4 linked regions of the Homo sapiens genome follow. The protein of the gene in region 4 purifies or fractionates together with the protein of the main gene of each other region. This does not show direct contact. Each region holds a gene or a part of one and is shown on either strand. Other genes may lie near its edges.

Evidence for each region.
Region 1: the proteins of KRT80 (region 4) and SERPINB12 fractionate together in Homo sapiens (co-fractionation; one large-scale study listed by BioGRID). This does not show direct contact.
Region 2: the proteins of KRT80 (region 4) and SULF2 purify together in Homo sapiens (co-immunoprecipitation; one large-scale study listed by IntAct). This does not show direct contact.
Region 3: the proteins of KRT80 (region 4) and RNLS purify together in Homo sapiens (pull-down; one study listed by IntAct). This does not show direct contact.

Annotation. Positions count from the first base shown.
Region 1 is NC_000018.10:63,551,448-63,556,187, reverse strand, and holds part of SERPINB12 (serpin B12), read right to left. Parts: intron 47-4,740; coding exon of another isoform or gene 29-46; coding exon 1-28. UniProt on the Homo sapiens protein: Inhibits trypsin and plasmin, but not thrombin, coagulation factor Xa, or urokinase-type plasminogen activator. May play a role in cell differentiation.
Region 2 is NC_000020.11:47,659,428-47,663,955, forward strand, and holds part of SULF2 (extracellular sulfatase Sulf-2 isoform a precursor), read right to left. Parts: intron 4,196-4,528; coding exon 4,026-4,195; intron 3,786-4,025; coding exon 3,643-3,785; intron 2,470-3,642; coding exon 2,346-2,469; intron 304-2,345; coding exon 270-303; intron 26-269; coding exon 1-25. UniProt on the Homo sapiens protein: Exhibits arylsulfatase activity and highly specific endoglucosamine-6-sulfatase activity. It can remove sulfate from the C-6 position of glucosamine within specific subregions of intact heparin.
Region 3 is NC_000010.11:88,355,857-88,360,596, reverse strand, and holds part of RNLS (renalase isoform 1 precursor), read left to right. Parts: intron 1-4,740. UniProt on the Homo sapiens protein: Catalyzes the oxidation of the less abundant 1,2-dihydro-beta-NAD(P) and 1,6-dihydro-beta-NAD(P) to form beta-NAD(P)(+). The enzyme hormone is secreted by the kidney, and circulates in blood and modulates cardiac function and systemic blood pressure.
Region 4 is NC_000012.12:52,177,760-52,182,499, forward strand, and holds part of KRT80 (keratin, type II cytoskeletal 80), read right to left. Parts: intron 3,205-4,740; coding exon 3,144-3,204; coding exon of another isoform or gene 2,850-3,143; coding exon 2,754-2,849; intron 1-2,753.

The sequences.
Region 1 (4,740 bases), on a different chromosome or scaffold from region 4:
TGGTGTTTGCTGTAACAAGAGAGTCCATTGTAAAACTTATAACGATCTAAAACCAAAAAAAAAGGAGAAAGAGAAAATGGTGATTGGAAGAAAATAAGTGAACAAACAATTTTATTTTACATACCTGAAATACAATCATGCACAATTATTCAGTATGCTATTAAGAACTGGAAAACTAAGGTCATTATCATCCCTGTATATAAATATTGGTGTTGATATTGATAGACAGAGATCTATTTTCATTTAGTAGTGTGAATTCGTTTCCTGGGGCTGCCATAAGAAATTACCACAGACTGAGTGGTTTAAATAGCAGGAGTTTATTCTCCCATGGTTCTGGGGGACAAACGTCCAAAATCAAGATATCAGCAGATTTGGTTCATTTCAAGACTCTCAAGGAAAATCTGTTTCATGCCTCTCTCTCAGCTTGTGGTGGTTGCCAGCAAACTTTGACATTCCTTGACTTGTAGACAAATCACTCAAGTCTCTGCCTCCATCTTCACATCCTTCTCTTTATTGTCCATGTATGTATCCAAATTTCCCTCTTCTTTTAAAGACAGCAGTCACTGAATTAGAGCCCATCCTAAGCCAGTACAACCTCATCTTAATTTGACCACATCTGCAAAGACCCTATTTCCAAACAAGGTCATATTCACAGGTAGAAGGATTAGGACTTAAACTATATTTTTAGGGGACATAATCCTACCCACTTTGTGGTGGAACTCCCTGTATTCACGTAAAATGAAGCCAAAGGCTAACATTCTTATTATCAAGTTAGCAGCCAAGCAAACATCATCCCATCTCATTCTTCTCCACAGATTGTGGCTGGTTCTGCTTACACCTTTTGCCTGTACTCTCCCCTCATTGCTCTGTGACTGAGGATATGCCCAGCAAATTCCCATGGGTCATGTGCCTTGTTAACATTCTCACCCCCTTTTGACTCATCCCACATGCAAACTACAGAATTTGAGGCACTTTAGTCAGTCATTCATATTGTTCAAGAGACAATAAATCTTGAATGATGCTGGGGGTCTTGATGTCACCAGGTGTACTAGTCCATTTTCACACTGCTACAAAGAATACCAGAGACTGTGTCATTTATAAAGGAAAGAGTTTTAATTGACTCACAGTTCCGCATGGCTGGGGAAGCCTCAGGAAACTTACAATCATGGCGGAAGGAGAAGGAGAAACAAGTACCTTCTTCATTAGGCGGCAGGAGAGAGAGAGAGAAAAGGAGGAACTGCCAAACACTTATAAAACCATCAGATCTCATGAGAATTCACTCACTATCACAAGAACAGCATGGGGGAAACTTCCTCCATGATCCAATCACCTCCCACCAGGTCTCTCCCTCAACACGTGGAGATTATGGGGATCACAATGTGTGATGAGATTTGAGTAGGGACACAGAGCCAAACCATATCACCAGGTTCAATGTCCTCTTTGACAGTGTAGAACTACAGATAATATAGAACCAGAGTGAGATAGTGACTTCCTAAGAACAGGTATCTTGCCTTCCCCACCCAATCTATTCCAGAGTATCAAGAGAATATGTAGATCTCACCACTGACCTATGCCTTTCAAATGAAATGCCTTTTCTTTTGTCTCTTTGCCTATAGATATTGTGTATTTCCAAGATAGAAATGTAAATCCTCTTATTTGTGCTTTTATCATCAGATACAGCACACCATAAGCATGAAGAAATATTGCTGCATTGAATGGAATGGTGTAATTTGTTTTAACACTTTCCCAGTTAATATAGATTTTCTTAGCCTATAAAACCTAATTCAAAAAGATAACATTATGTAACTTTTTAAAAAATGTGTCTAACATGTGCCAAATATCTTACATGTGTTAGCTTTAATCCTACAACTCTGCAAGGTAGATATGATCATTCCTTCTTTTTCAGAAAAGAAAACTGCATAATCAAATAGCACATATATTTGGCCCCAAACTAAGTAATCTTTCTACTGTATCTATCGTTTCTAAGTTGCCCCTCAACTGATGATAGGTGATCAAACACATGCCTGCTGTATGTGGGTACTCTCCCCCCTTATTCAGCTTATAGTCCATTTTATTGCTACATTTTCTTTCTGCCAAGTTTGTACCTAACTCACAGTTCTTATCTTGCATCTGGGAACTGGGTTTGAGACGTACTTTGTATTTTCAAACTAATTTCAGGGTAATCATAGATCACCAGAGTGTTTTCAGGAGCATTATGCCTTAATTGGTGGGTGTTTTTTGAGTAATGGATGTCCTGGATGTATCTGGAAATTCAATAATGCCTCACAACTCAGAAAGCTACCTTTGCATATGTTGGTAAACATCTTGATGTCCAACAGATTTTCTCTACACATAGCTCACATTACCCATCTAGTAACAAGTCTACTAACAAAGAAAAGAAAACCAACAAATTAAAGATGGTCTGAGTTGGGGGGATTTCACAGGCTTTCGATTAATGATAAAATTTTGTGTGAAATGTAGTCTAATATTTTTTAAAACCTTTGTTGTATAACTTAGGTTAATGTTTGATCAAAATCTTCAGCTCGAAGGAGGAGAAGGTAAAGGGAATCCTGGCAATTTGGCCATCACTATTAAAAGAAGACAAGAGCCTGACTATATTGAAGGAAAAGAAGGGGTTGGTTAGAAAGACTGAATGATCCCAACCTGGCTCTTCAAATGTTCCAGTTAATCACTTGGCTTCACCCCTTCTGCCTTCTAGCATGAGCACTCCCAGAACTGAATGATCAGAGTCTTGCCTGCTTTAGAAAGGACATGACTACTCATGCAGGCCAACTCCCTACTTCTCAAGATAAAAAAAACTGAGGCCAAATGAGGCGAAGTGACTTGCAACAATCATGCAGCTGTCCAGAAGCAAAGCAAGGCTAAGACTTCCTCATGCCTAGGGCTGCTTCCTCCTAGATCACACAGTTTTTCACATTCCATTCCATTCTAATTCTGGCACTACACTTACTCACTCTGTGGGCTACAGAACACTCCAAAACTCTCTCTGCCTGTTTCTGCATCAAGCTTCTATAAACTTTGTGAACTACTTTCCAGGAGTACTGTGATGCTCTCACCCCAGTAACAATTCCCTTTTCTGAGTGTTACCTGGTTCTAAGCTTTCATTACAGTTGTGTGCAGCTTTAATGCTGCCTCACCTCCCAAGGGAGTTGAGAGAACAATAGTAACAGAAAACAACGAAAAAAAAACAGCTGGACAGTTGCTGTTAAAGTTTTATGACTATATGTAAGCCCTTACAATAGGAAGATCTTTCCTGGCTTTACATACAAGTCTAAAACATAGCAAATAATGAACATTTAATGACTAGATTAAAATGTCATCTGCTAACCACCTTCTGAAGGGTTGCTTGGTTATTTTGGGGGGTGGGGGTGAGTCAGTTTTTTTAAATTAGAAACTGCCTAAATCTGACACCAACCTAATTATGAAGTTCTCCCACTGGGTTAGTCACTATATATAAAAGATGAACTGAACAAGACACAATCTCTGCCTTTGAGAAATCTATGACCTAACAGAGCAGATAATGCATTCGCAGATTCAGGAGTAGAGTTTAAGACGCATAGAAGAGTAAGATATTAATTTACAAAATGAAATAGAAAAGGGAAAAGAGTATTTTGTAGGAAGCACTCATTAAGATTTGATTATGCTAATAACACAGATTCAAATAGGCAATTTTAAAATATAACACTTTAAAAATACTTTAAAGCTTTTTAACATTGCTTTTATTTATTAAAAATAAGCTTAGACTGTTAGTAAAAATCATGTTATGTTATGTTGTTGCAATTAAAAAGAAAAGAGAAAGAAATTTAAGATTAATTGTCTTGTTCTCATCAAAAATCCCTTTGAAACCAGCCTAATTTTCCATAGAAATGAGTTTATGGTCTTTTTGAATAAACATAGAAATTGACCCTCCTGGTCTTAAAGCTTGAAACTTACATTTGTCGTATCTGAATTACTTCTTCAGGAAACCCATTCGCAGGCCTCCCAGAGAGTATCAAGCAACTGAAATTCACATCATGGCATGCACACAAAGAGATAGCAGAACCCACACTCGTCTTGATTATTTTCTTTCCCCTCCCTAATCCTTATTTTCCCATATGTAGCTACATTTCTTCCCCACTATATAAACCTCCCATTTTAGTAAGTTGAGGGAGAATGATTTGAGATTTATCCCCATCCCTTTGGCTGACGTCATCTGATTAAAGCCTTCTTCCCTGGCAACACTTGTCTCAGTGATTGCCTCTCTGTGCGGTGAGCAATAGGACATAGACCAAATCCCTGGCATTTCAATAATGCCTTTTACATGGACACTAATTTGAAAACAGTAATGACTAAATCACAAATTCCAAATCAATTGGATTCAAAATAGGACCACTTTAGCAAGAAATAGAAAGGCAGAGATCTAAATATTACAATACCAAAATGTAATTGTAAGAGAGATTTCTCAAAGGTATGTAGCAAAATCACCTTAAGAATTTTTTTAAAATATGTACAAATATGTTCATAGCAACACTTTCATAATAGCCAAAACTCAGGAACAACGCAAATGTCCATCATCAGCAGAATAAACACATAGCATGGATCTCACATCACATCATAAGATAATGTTGAGTAAAAGAAATCATACATGCAGCCCAGCCAACATGGTGAAACCCCGTTTCTACTAAAAATACAAAATTAGCCAGGCATGGTGGCATGCACCTGTAATCCCAGCTACTTGAG
Region 2 (4,528 bases), on a different chromosome or scaffold from region 4:
TGGCCACTTTCGACGCTGAAACTGCCTAAGTTTTCAAGTGTCAAAGGAGAATGAATGTTAACCATCACCAAGAAAGAAAAAGTCCCCAAAGAACTATACAAAGAAGGTCTCCTAGGTGACACCTATCTTTGGTGGGTGATCCTGGTCTCGGGCAGACCAGAGGGAAGGGCAGTTTCTCAAGATAACAGGTGCAGACTCACAGAGATGAGACTGAAGGATGGGCCAAGATAGGAGAACTTTGTTTAGGCTTTAATAATAAAACGAAATACCTGTATTGCTCATAGCTTCCTCCATCTTTAAGTCCTAAATGAAGGAGAAATGAAAAACAAAACAGGAGCAGATAGTTTAGGCAAAACAACCCCAACACACCAGAAAACCATCTTATGCTTTTTTGTCACAATCCCATGATGCTGATAGTGTTCCCTACTCAGAGTAGACTGAATTATGAGGGGTAGACTGAATTATGAGGGGAACCTGCCCTAAGTCTCCTAGATAGCCTTGTAGATTGCCTAAAATCCAGTGTCACCATGATCAGTTTCAGGACCCTGATGGCTTCATTCAGCGCTGACCTTAGTTATGGTGAGGGAGGTAGATGCAGGCATGAACATCTGTGCTCCAGAGGACAGAAAGCCAAGAGCCCTGACCAAGTGCAGGAGGGAGTTCCCCTTTGGGCTCTGGGGAAGTTTTCCCGAGGATGTGGCAGGATCAAGTGCGTGGGCTCCGGGGTCAGCCCACCTTGTTCACCTTACTCCTCCATAAAATGAGGATAAGATTCACCTCAAAGCTTATCAGCTAACACATGTAAAATGCTCAGCACAGAGCCTGGCACACAGTGACTAATATGTCATTGCACTTTGATCACAAGAGTAGCAGCACTTGAGTGGCAGAGATTAGGAAGCTACTAGTGAAAATTCTGATCATATCAGGCTCCTGACCAGAAGTATTAGTGCAACATCTTGTGTAAACACATTAGCTCTTCCCTCTTCATAACTAGAGCCGACGGTAGCGTCTGAATTCCTCCTAAGCTGTGTAGCCATTTTCCTGACATGAACTCTAGGCATCCTCCTAGACACAGTCCCTTCCCCAAGGGACCTTAAATACCAAAGGTTTTTTTTAGGCCACTCTCTCTCACTAGTAAGTGAACTTCATTTTTCTTTTAGCTTTGTTTTCTTTTTTTAATATATTTTTTTTATTTTTAGAGATGGGGCGACAGCTCTGTCTCCCAGGCTGGAGTGCAGTGGTGCTATCATAGCTCACTGTAACCTTGAACTCCTGGGCTCAAGTCTCCTCCCACCTCAGCCTTCCAAAGCCCTGGAATCATAGGCATGAGCAACCATGCCTGTTTAGCTTTTTTCATCTTAAAATATCTATCTGGTTGGCATTCTAAACTTAAAACTGCAGATTTTGTCCTGTCCCAAACAAAACTCAGGATTTACCTGGGACTCCTAATCCCGCACCTCCCATCACCATGTTGTCTGGGGGCTTCACCACCTGAATCTGAAATCCATCATCTTTACTGCTCCCACCTCTAGTCCAAGCCACCACCATTTCTCCCTGGATAACTGGGCCATCTTCGCTGTTTTCTCCCATAAAGTCCCATTCTCCACCTAGCAAATGTCGGTGCCCAGGTTAAAACCCTCCATTGGCTTCCTGATACACCACAAATGAAATCTAAACTCTACCGTGGCCTAGGAAGCCCCACACAGGGTGGCCCGATGCCCTCCCGCCACTCTCCACTGGCCTCAGTTGTGTTGGCTGCACCCCCTGAGCTGCTTTCTGCTCCTCACACTTTAAGCTTCCTGGAGCGCCAGCCCTCCACGTTTTCTCAGTGGTCGATTGCATCCTACTTTTCAGGACTCAGTTCAGAGGTCTGACCCTGGTTTTATTTAGCAGTGCCCTTCCCCAGTCACACTGGATTCTACCATCCAGTTTTACCCTTTCCATACAAGCAAGAGGCCTCCTGCTGTGGACTGCTCTTCTTAGGACAACACTGGCTCCACACAAGTCAGCGAGGATGGGGTCATCTTTAGTCAACATGGTTTCAGGTGTAAGTTCTCAGGAAGTGTTTGTTGAATGCATGAGTGGACAAAAGGGAGGACAATGAAATGAGACGGAATTCCGTGTGTTTCCTGGGCAGTTGGTGCAGGTGTTCCTCTCTCAGGAATCACAGCTTGTTAAAGGTCATCTGCCTGCTATGGACAGGGGCTCCCATGACTCGTCTGGAACTGTATCACCTCCCAAAGCCTGGTGATTTCAGGCTCATTCTTGGGGTAGACACCACCTCCTGAGTCCCTTCCTTTGGTTACCCTGCTGTCCAAGGGCCCCACGTTGGGGTGCCTACTCACCCAGGTCCATGTTTCGAGTCCGGGGGTTACACTGCTTGTAACCCTTGCAGCTCCTCAGCTCCATGAGCTGTACGTGTAGCTGGTTGAGGACATCCCTGTCCAGTGTGTTCACTGCATTCATCAGCTGGTTGCAAAAAAGGTAGTCTGTCAACAAGGTAAGTACAGGGACTCTCGCCCTGCCCTTCTACCAACCAGGGGACATATTTCAGGCAGGTGGCGGGTGGAAGGTGCTAGGGGCTGGTGACCTGTTTACTCCAACTTCTGCAAGAGCCAGCGTTTGGAAGAGTTAGGTGACTTTTTGGCTTCAAGTCCCACCAGGTTCACTCTTCATGAGAGTGAAAACTCAGGAGAATAAAAACCACGTCTGTGTATTTAACGTTGGAGTTCTGCAGCCACTGGTCAGGAAACTTCCCAAGCTTGGAAAGAAAGCCTTCCAAGTCTTGGTTTTATCAGCAGCCTTCATTCAGGGGCCCTCAGCTCCTCCTGATTGCAAAGCAGCCATTTGATGAAAGGACGGGTAAGTGGCCTGGGTTCTTGTGTAGTCTGGGAGCTACCGGTGAGGGACTTAACCTACCCCTTTGGTAAAGTATGAGGGTGAACCTATCTAAGGAGAAAGACTGCACACCTATATAGTAATTAAAGCATTTGTGCTGCTGACATTTAAACATCAGATTTCATTTAAATTATTTCAGGCTTTTCTTGAAAGGTCAAAGCCTGGGCAATACCAAGGCCACAGTACAGGAAAGCTCTAGTGCTGGAGCTCAGTAGTGACTGTCCCTGTACAAGGGCCCACATGTTCCGATGACCAGACATGCCACTGCTCCTTTTGGTCTTGTGTGGTCCTGGGCCACTTCAGTCGCATGTGTGTTTAGATGGCTTACTGTACGGAAGCACTTAGCAGAGTGCTTGGTGCAGTGTGTTACTGTTATATTAGCTGCGCGGTCCGTGTAGGCCCTGCAGTGGGTGATATTTGGCTTGATCCTACAGCCTGACAGTGTTAGGAGTCTTCACAAGTTCCGGCAAAACCTGGTTGCATGCTGCATGTTAAGTTAGAGGGAAGAAGCCATATATATTACACACGCAGGGTGATGGAGGCAAAAAGCAGGGTGATGGAGGCAAAAAAGGCTGATTGAACACAGAACCCCCAATCTCAGCAGCTTCACAACTTACTCCCACCGGCTCAGGGACTCAGTGGGACTTGGACAATTTGTCATCACTTCCCTGAGGTTGGGGGGGGCCTACCTGGCAGCACTGGTGTACCCCACACCCCCATCCCTCTAGCTCGGGTTGCCTGTACCTGGTAGGGGTCTGTGTTGAGATCAAAGTACTCTAGGAAGCCAGTTGCAAATTCACAGAAGAGGAAATTGTGAGTCTCATTGATGGTCCTCATGCACCAGTACGTGTTATTGTTGGCGCTGGTGCAGGCACAGAAAGGCCCCACTGCCAAGGAAGAGAGAGCATGTCCTGAGTGCCTGCGGGAGGAGGCCCCATCTGCCAACAGTGATTCCTGTCAGGGACAGCCCCTAAAACCAGTTCGTCAAATGCCAAGAGGCTGTCCCGAGCACCGTGGACCCCTGGTGTTGGGGACCCCCTTTCTGAGAGAGGTCTGGGTCACTAAGTGGAGAAGTTTCTTGAACCCCTGGGCCTCAGCCTGTCCACCCCTGCCCTGGGCTTGCTCACGTGTCCAGAAAGGCGCCGTCTGCCAGTGCTGGTTGTCGTGGGTGAAGCACGTGAGGCCTGGCATGCTGCACGTGTCGTTGTTCTGCAGGCGCTTGAGCAGCTTGCGGAGTTTCTTCTTGCGCTTCTGCTCCCGCAACAGCCACACCTTGTCCTTCTCTTGCAGGCCCTTCCTATGGGCGCAGAGGGCCACACACACCTTGGGCCTCTGAGGGATCAGTGACCCCATGTCTCTGCTCTTCCTGTCCACCTAAGGGCTTCGCTGAGGCTTCTCCAACAGAGAGCCATGGGCATAGCAATTCAGGGTCCCAAGTCCCAGTGCTGCTCCAAGGCAGAGCCGGGACCAGAACCTGGGTCTTGTCATTCTACTTTAACTCCCAAGGGGGCACAAGCTGGGGACAGAACCAGGCAGCTACTGGGACTCCTGTTGACACCCCTTTCCCCTCCTTCCTGTGTCCTGCCCTGCTTGGTGGAGTTGCGGTAACCCCATTTAGCCACAAGGGGGC
Region 3 (4,740 bases), on a different chromosome or scaffold from region 4:
GGCATGGTGACAAGCGCCTGTAATTCCAGCTACTCGGGAGGCTGAGGCAGGAGAATCACTCTTGAACCCAGGAGGCAGAGGTTGCAGTGAGCAAAGATCGTGCCACTGCACACCAGCCTGGGTGACAGTGCAAGACTCCATCTCAAAAAATAATAACAATAAATAATAATACTAATCAAGGAAATCTTTACAGAAGCCCTTTAATAGACTTCTCCTCATGTGCCACAGGCCAGAATTGGATTACTTGAGTACTCCAAAACCAGGTGCTAGCAAAGAGGGTGGAAGCAATGTGATAAGCCTATACAAGTCCAGTTCTACTCCTGGAACTGGTACTAGGGTCATCTTTCCTTTAGTTATGAGGAGTGCTACCTGAATAAAATAGAGTTTTGTTAGGAAGAAGGAAGGAAGTACTAAATGCTGGATTAGCAATCAATAATGTCCATTATCTTCAAGTAGAGTCACATCTTATATGGGAGGTAAAGTTCTAAAGTTGTCACATAAAAAGAGTCATGTACATTCAAAATTACCTTCAAAGTTTCTTAAAACCACATGACATTTTAGAGAATGATGTAACATCTTTCAGTAAATTCAGTACAACTATTTTCCCAACATTCAATAGATTTCTGTTTCTTTGGTGAAGCCAGATTAAAAGTTGATTTGGATTTATAGGACCCAGTGATATTTTCTACTATGAAAGGCACACAGGAAGGAAAGAAATAGCAGAGTCATATCTCCTAACGGACTATACATCTGCTATAAAAATGGAGTGGGATGGTGGGTAAAAGCACCCACAGTACAGTGCAGTAATAATTTATAAAATTATGCAAATTTGAAAGAGTACAACATAAAATATTAATAAATTATCTCATGATTGGAAGCATTTGAAATAATAGAATTTTAAAAATTTTTTATATCAGCAATCATACAATATTGAAAGGAGTGGCTACATGAATTGGAAACCATGTTTTTGCTAAAGCCCATGGTGGTGCCACTTCAGCAAGCAAAGAAATACCTGCTTTTCTTTGACAACTGTATGGGAAATTAATCTTCAATTATGCGAGTTTTAAATTAAGTGAGACAGAATGCCAGTAATGGCATTTCATAACGTAAAATCTAACTGCTTTGCATTTAAACTATTTTTTTCTCACTATCTGGGGGCCAGGGTACTAAATGGGTCTAGTTGAATTCGCATACTACAAATGCCCATGTAATGTAACTTCACTCTATTTTATTGATATTGATATTTAACTAGGACAGTAAGAGTTTTTTTGTTTTTTTTTTTTAATGTAGTTTCGCTCTGTGGCCCAGGCTGTAGTGTAGTGGCAAGATCTCTGCTCACTGCAACCTCTGCCTCCTGAGCTTAAGCGATTCTCCTGCCTCAGGCTCCCAAGTAGCTGGGAGTACAGGTGCCCGCCTCCATGCCCAGCTAATTATTTTTGTACTTGTAGTAGAGACGGGGCTTCACCAAGTTGGCCAGTCTGGTCTTGAACCCCTGACCTCAAATGATCCAACTGCCTTGGCCTCCCAAAGTGCTGGGATTACAGGCATGAGCCACTGTACCCGGCCAGGAGATGTTTCTTTATGCCAGTAACACTACCCCACACCCTTGCTTTATGTGGGGTGTTTGATTGAATCAATAATTAATACTACAATGTACATACACAACCAATGAAACATTTGTGTTCTGTCAAGGTAGAGAAGCAACAAGATAAACAAAGTCTGGCATGGTTGAGACCACAAAATACAGTCAGTTGTTAAGTCTTGAAGAGAGCTAGAGGATATAGAAGTAGCCCAAAGATCAAGGCATAATAATTTGTTAGAAGTCAGGAATAGGTAGTACAGTAGATGTAGAAAGCCACAGCCAGAACCAAAATTTCCTTAGGCAGAGGGAGTAGATTCCAAGATGTACTAGACCGACTTCAAGTAACAATAGTTATGAATATGCCCCAATATCCTTGTTTGTGTTTCCCAAAATGTGTTCAGTGGAACACTATTTCCTTGAGTTGCTCTTTGAAAAAGGGCTCTGTCATCAAATAAATTTGCAAAATACTACAGACATTTATTTTGGAGAATATCAGGACATATTATCTTTTTAAAGGATATTCCTACAGAAAAGACACCTTTTTACTTCTTTTAATCTAGAATTTCCTAAATGTACTTTATCATGGGATATTGTATTTCAGCACCAAACCTACTAACATCCCACAGAAATGGTTCCCAAGTATATATTTGAGAAACCCTGACTTGATGTCACCTTTCATGCTTCACACCTGGGCAGGAATTGTAGGCCAGATAATTGGAGTGGGAGGTTCGTTCCTGAAGGCATCAATTGGGAAATACTTGAGATTTTTTTTAGAAATGAAAGAACCCTTGTTGCCAATAAACTCAAATCTTCATGGAGTTAAAATTTGAGAAAATTTATGTTAAAATAAGGTGTTTATCATATTAACTTGGGTAGTTTTTAAAATTAGTAAGATTGGCGTAGTGGGAAGTATTTGGACTCACAAGACCTACATTCAGATTCTGGTTCTGAAAAATGCTACTGTTGTACTTTTGTATAGGTCTTGTATTTGTAACGCTAGTGTTTTTAGTAAACATACCCAAAAACTTTAATGGCCTGAACATGACTGAGGTTTATTTCTTGCTCACCTAAAGCCCAAACAGGTGTTTGTGATTGATAGGTAGCTTTCTTCAAAGCTTTATTTAGGAACCCAGGCTCCATCCATTTTTTGACTCTGCCAACTTCATCAGGTAACTACCAGAGTCAGTGTGCTCATAGGCATCAATCTGTGGATGGAAAGAGGATGGAGGAGAGCCAGAGGAGTTTTTAGGGGTAGGCCTAGAAATGGTGCACCTCAAGTGTGCTCACATTCTGTTGGTTAGGACACAGTTATGTGACCACACTTATTTGGAAGGAAAGCTGGAAATGTAGTCTACCTATATATGTAGGAAGAAGAAAAAGTGGATTTGGTGAACATCTAGCCAGTTTCTACTAAAACATTTAGTATAAATTGTTCTGTAAAAGGAACAGATTATACCTGTGTGAATGATAAATAGGTTTCAACACAAGTGAGAATCATTCAATAAGTAGTTGCCACCTAGAACAACAACTAAGAATGATTCCCAGGCTGGGTATAGACTCAGTAGAAAAAGATCTTCCAACAATCAGCAATATCTGTCATGTAGAGAACATAAGGAATAGTGCCACAAGTGAGATACATTTACCTCTCAAGAAGATCTCTGAGGTCCATCCCAGGATCTTAAATTTGAAGTTAGACTGTCCAGGAGTCCAGACTCAACTCAGTTCCACCATTTACTAGCTGTGTAACTTTGGGTAAATTAAACTATCTGTTGCCTCCTCAATAAGATAAGTAAAATAATACCATACCAATACCAAAGGGTTACTGAGAATTAAATGATTCGAACATATGAAGACTTTGTGTGGCATTTAGAAAGTAAGTATTTATGGTACGTATTATTATAATTAACAGTTCCAGTCTTCAATTTGGATATTATAGTCTCTGAAGCAAAGGGCATAAATATAAAAGTCTAACTTAGGTGAATGCAGCCTCTGTTACCAATACAGATAGGAGTTAGGGCAACTTAAATAAATAAAATGAGTAAGCAACCCTGAAAATGATCAGAAATTTAGCATTCTTTCCTTGTCACCATCTGAGGAGTGTTAATGATCAATAAAATAGCCAATAGGCAGCAATCTGAGGAGATTAAGACAATCTATCTGAATTCTAGAGATGTGATGGCCAATAGCCAATAGTCAGCAATCTGAGGAGATTAAGACAATCTATCTGAATTCTAGAGATGTGATGGCCAATAGCCATAATGACATAGTTTTCAATATCTTATCAAAGAAAATAATCCAACTCATCTTAAAAGAAGAAAAGCAAATGAACAAACTTAGAATGTATTCATAGAATTTATCCTCACAAGAATTTTATTGTTAGAATCTTTGAGTAACAAACACTAATATAATATATAATACCTTCAATGGCTGTTTTGCAAAATATGCAGAAGTGTTATTCCATATGGCTATTTATTACGTCAACTCTTTATAAAAAGAAGGACATAATATGAGATGTTATAAATAACTGGGATGGGCCTGAGGCTTTAAATCCTGTCACCTTGTGACACTTAAAAGAGTTCATGATTATTCCAATTAAACAAATAGCCGTGAACTTTATAACACAAAATTGTCCACTTAAGAATTGAATCGGGGGGCAGTTCCAAGACGGCTGAATAGGAACAGCTCCAGTCTACAGCTCCCGGCATGAGTAACGCAGAAGACAGGTGATTTCTGCATTTCCAACTGAGGTACCGGGTTCATCTCACTGGGGCTTGTTGGACAGTGGGTGCAGAATGGTGGGTGCAGGACACCGAGCATGAGCCAAAGCAGGGAGAGGCATCGCCTCACGTGGGAAGCGCAAGGGGTAGGGAATTCCCTTTCATAGCCAAGCAAAGCTGCGACAGACAGCACTTGGAAAATCAGTCACTCCCACCCTAATACTGCTCTTTTCCAATGGTCTTAGCAAACGGCACACCAGGAGATTATATCCCGCGCAAGGATCAGAGGGTCCCATGCCCACGGAGCCTTGCTCATCTCTCGTTGCCAGCACAGCAGTCTGAGATCGAACTGCAAGGCAGCAGCGAGGCTGGGGGAGGGGTGCCCACCATTGCTGAAGTTCGAGTAGGTAAACAAAGCGATCTGGAAGCTCGAACTGGGTG
Region 4 (4,740 bases):
TGCTCCAAAGCTGAAACTAGAGTATCAGGGCCTCCTGGGCCACTCGTGTTCTGCCAGGTTTTTCTTCCACCTGAGGCAGGTGTGGCTGGCACAGTCTTTACTCAGAGCTGCTCTGTCCAATGAGGTAGATGTCGAAATAATTATATTTTTGATATATTGGGCTAAATAAAATATATTATTAAAATTATTTTTTCTGTTATTTTAAAATGTGGTGACTAGAAAACTTAAAATTACATATGCAGTTCACATTGTATTTCTATCAGACGGCACTGACTTAAGACACCCTCTGGTGTGGGGAATAGTTTTGGCAAAGAGTCAGCATTGCCCTCTTAGCCTGCAGCAGTGTATGGAGAGAAAGGCAAACCTCCAATTTCAACCCCATCTTGCTGCTTTCAAAAGTAATAATAACTGCTGTGGTTCCCTGGCCCCTACTGCCTCCATCGCAAGCCCTTCTCCACAGCAGGCTCAGGATAGCACAACCACACCTGAAACCCGCTGTTTGCCACCCCGCCCCAGTGCCCACCGAAGGCTGCCTGTCACACTCAGAATGAGGTCCAAGTCGTGAGACAACCCTGTGAGGCACTCTCTGACCCAAAGCTCCCACCCTGCCCCGTGTGCTCTGACCAGAGACTTCTTTCTTTTTCTTTAATCGCCAGGCTCCCCTCCTGCCTTAGGGGCTTTGCATAGCAATTCTGTGCCATCTCCAGTCTCCACTGGGCTGGATCTCTGCCACTCTTAGGGAGGGTACCGCCTGTGAGAGGCCCCGCTCATGGGCTCTGAGGCTCTTCCCTCCTTCCGGCTCCAGCGCAGCACCCGGTTTCTTTGCATCCCAGAATCTGTCACCCTGCGAAGCGATCTTGTCCAGATATTTGCTGACTTGCTTATGACTTGTCTCAGCTAAGTCATGCCCTCCTTGAGAGAAGGGACCTTGCCCAGGCTGTGGTATCAGTGCCTGGCACTTAGTAGGCATGCAATAAACATTTGTTAAATGAATGAGTGGGCTGAGTCCTCCTCACAGCCCTATGAGGCTGGTCCTGTTACTCTCTCCATGCTACAGATAAGGACACTAAGGCACAGAGAGGAGAAAAAACTTGCCTAAAGTTACAGAAATAGTAAAAAAAAAAAACAAGGCCAAGTTGGGATTGGGGCCCAAGGACTGCAAAATCCAAAGGGAACCCACAGGCCTGGCTACTGGGGCAGGGGCCAAGAAGTCTTGTGGGGTGCTCAGGAATATCACTGGTTATGCCCAGCCTTCTTCCAGTTATGTCTCTACAGCTGCAGGGCCTGCATCATGGCTTAGAGCTTGAGCTCTGAGCTTGCTGAGACATCAGTGAGCAGGTAGAGAAACACTGGGCTCGGTTTTCAGAATCTGCACTCCATCTAGGCTCGGCAGAATCTGCACTCACCCATGGACTCAGCCTCTCAGAGGCAGTATGAGTGGGTGGAGGCCTAAGGGTGGCAGAGATCCAGCCCAGTGGAGACAGGAGATGGCCCTGCTGATGCCAGCCTGGGCTGCACCAGCCCACAGTGAGTTTGGGCAGAGAAGCCCCTAGCCCAGTTCCCACCCAGCCAGTGGGCATGGTGCCCTGGTCAGCCCCATAGCACTTGGCCTGGCTGTGGGGGGATTTGTTAGGGCCAGGAAGCTTTTCAGGGCTGTGGGGAGAGCGGACTGCCTAGGAGGGCTGCCTTCCTGCTGCTCCCAAGGGTTTGCTGTTCTCTCTGCTATGCTACCTCTCGTGGCCACAAACAAGACTCAGTTCCACGGAGGCCCCAGCTGGCAGCTGGGACTGCTGGAAAGGACTGTGACCCATGACAGGGCCATGAGGCCCGGTCTTCCTTTCCACAGGATGCAGCCATGAAGCTGTGGTCAGCAGATCATAGGGCCATTTTAGCAGAATCTGTAAGTTGTGGTGGTGACTTTGATCTCAGCCTTGACCTTGGCTGCACTGCCATAGCTTGGCACCAGCAGTGTGCAGCACTTAGGCGGGCAAGCCCTGTTATCTCCAACAGTGGTGCTGCCTGCTCCTAGCTGAACTGCAGACCTCTGTGGAAGGGACTTTAGCTCAGGAGTGTCACCCCTGAACCTCCTCACCCTTGAAACAAGTGGTGTGGAGAGGAGGACACATATCCTGAAGGGTGCCTAGGAGTCAGCAGCTGGCATGGAGGAGTGGTGTCCAGAAGCCAGCGGCAGTGCCCATCTAATGGCTGTGTTGATGCATGCCATGCTGTTATGGGCCCTTGTACACTGGGCCCCACTGAGGACTTAGGAAACAAATGCGAATGTTTCCTCTGTCTTCGCCAAAAATGGGGAAAACGGAAAGGCAGGCCTATCAGAACTAGCACTGTGGGTGCTGTGGTTTAGGCTGCAGGAATTAGGGAGAGATCAGTTCAATCAGCATGCTCGTTCCAGACCCCTGGGTTCCATGCCACTGAGGCCAGCCTCCTGACCCTTGTCCGAGGCACCTGGTCCCCAGCATGCCCTCAGTACTCTAGCACACAAAGGTATAGTTCTTCCAGAAAGAGTGGCCTTTGGGGAACCAGCCCATGTTCCATGAGATGAATGTCCAGGGGTCATGCAGGGTTATTGACACCATCACAGGAAGGGGTTTAGGAAATTATTATTCTGGGGCTGGAAATTGTAAGTGACTGTTGGAGGTTCCATGCCCCACTGGATGGCTGTGCTTCCCCTGTGTCCTTTACCCATGGACCAGCCAGCTCTGGGCTTGGCAAGACACTGGCCCCATCTCACTCACCTGCTCATAGATGGTTTTCATCAACTCCACGAAGCTCTCCAGGCTTTTTAACTTGGTTTCCAGTTCAGTCCGATGAAGACACTCTGCATCCAGGTCCTGGGGTTGGCAGCAGTGGTGAGTGGTGGGAGAGGGAATGGAGGGTCCCAGGGCAGGAGTGGGCTGGGGGGCTGCCTCCTGGGTGAGAGTGGGGGTGATTCCAGAGGAGATCTGGCTCAGAGCCTCGAAAAAGGAGCTGGATGGGGATGGGGGTATCTCCCTGTCTGTCTGTTGGTCCTGGGACTTAAGCCTCTGAGGGCTTTGATTGGGCATAAAGGAGAGTAGGATATCTGGAGGGAAAGAGGGCCCAGGGCCCATGAGGAAGGAGCCCCTGGGGCAGGCTGGGCAGGCTACCTTCTTCAGCTGAACAAAGGTGAACTCCATGTCTGTGCGCTTGGAGATCTCATCCTCATACCTGGGAGGGAGAGAGGGGTTGCTCAGCTGGATATGGTGGGGGCTTGGGCCTGGTGAACTCCCCTTGGTTGGGGCTCAGGGCCTGTGCTATCCCACTTGGGGTCTCTTTGCCAATTAAAGAAAAGCAGCCCATCCTTCTCCCTCTTGCATCTTCTATGACACATCCTCTCTCTCTCCCCCCGACCTCCTGGCATTGGCTCCCCGTTCCTCACTCCCTCCTGATGACACAGTCCTCTCCCAGTGGCTTCTGCCCTTTCCTGGCTCTGCTCCACACCCACTCCCCTCCAGGAGGCCTCCCTGATTGTGCAGCCCCTCACCCTGGCACTTTATCCCCTCATCTTTACCTGACCTCCTTCCCTGGCAATCTCAGGTTCACTCAAGTCCGCTGGGAGCATCTTGCTCACACCTCACCTCTCCCACCTCCATGCCTTCCCTGCAGCCCCAGCCACCACCCCTCTGCTTTGCGAGCCAGTAGGACACCATCCCATTGTATTCCCTCCAAAGGGAGGCTGGAAAGAGTGTGAACTTTGCTGTCAGAGGGACCCCCAGTGTGTTTTTGGGCAAGTTGCATCACCCCTCCTCTCTTGGCTTCCTGCCTCTAAGGGGTAGGCATGTGCCCACGTGTACAGGGGGCTGACAAACCCACCCCTGACGCAGTTGACAGCCAGCTACAGGCCGCATAGGCCATACTCAACAAAGCTCAATAACGCTCTTCTCAGTTTGGACTTCTTACTCGCTCCCACCTTGGGTTTGGAACAAGGACACCGTTGGGTGGGGAGGACAGGACCCCCAGATCCCTGGCCCGACCCTCTTCCTCAAGTCAAGACATTTGTTTGTCTTAGCCCCAGGGTGGGTGTCTGCTGGCTCCAGACTTCTCGCTGGCCCCAGCTGCTGTGGGGATTCAGCAGCTTCTGTTTTTTTCCCTCCTATTCGGGGAATGCCTGAATCACTGGCGGCTCTAATTACAGCCGCCTGCCTACCTCAGGCCCTAGCCTCCCAGCAGGGCTGCGTCACTCATCACCCATTGAGCTGGCTATATCTGGCGCCCCTCATGCCTTCTTCTTTCCCACCAGCCCACCTGAGGAGCTGAGGGGCGTGGACCCAATGGCAGGGCACGTGGGTTTCTGGTCTCAGTGTACCAGGGGCCCACACCCTCCCTGGCCACTGCCTTGGCTGCCAAGAGTCTGTTAGGGGCTTTGATGGTACAGGTCCTGGGGGTGGGGCAGAGGAGCAGGCCGGGGAGAACGTTCTGCTGTCTAGGCATCCCCAGAGAGAACTAAATTGGACTTGAGTGGGGAATAACAGGTGCTGAGTGCTTCACCTGCACTCTCTCTGGTGGTCCTCAGAGCACCCAGCTAGGGAAGTCCCATTGGTCTCATTTTACAGATGAGGAAATGGAGGCTCAAGGAAGGACTGGGGGCTCCTGGAGTGTGCTGATGAAGCAAGGGGACCAGAGCCAGGCTACTTGGGCTGAAATCCTGGCTTCCTTGCTAACCAGCTGTGTCCTGGGGTGAGTTCCTGTGTGCCTCAGCCACGA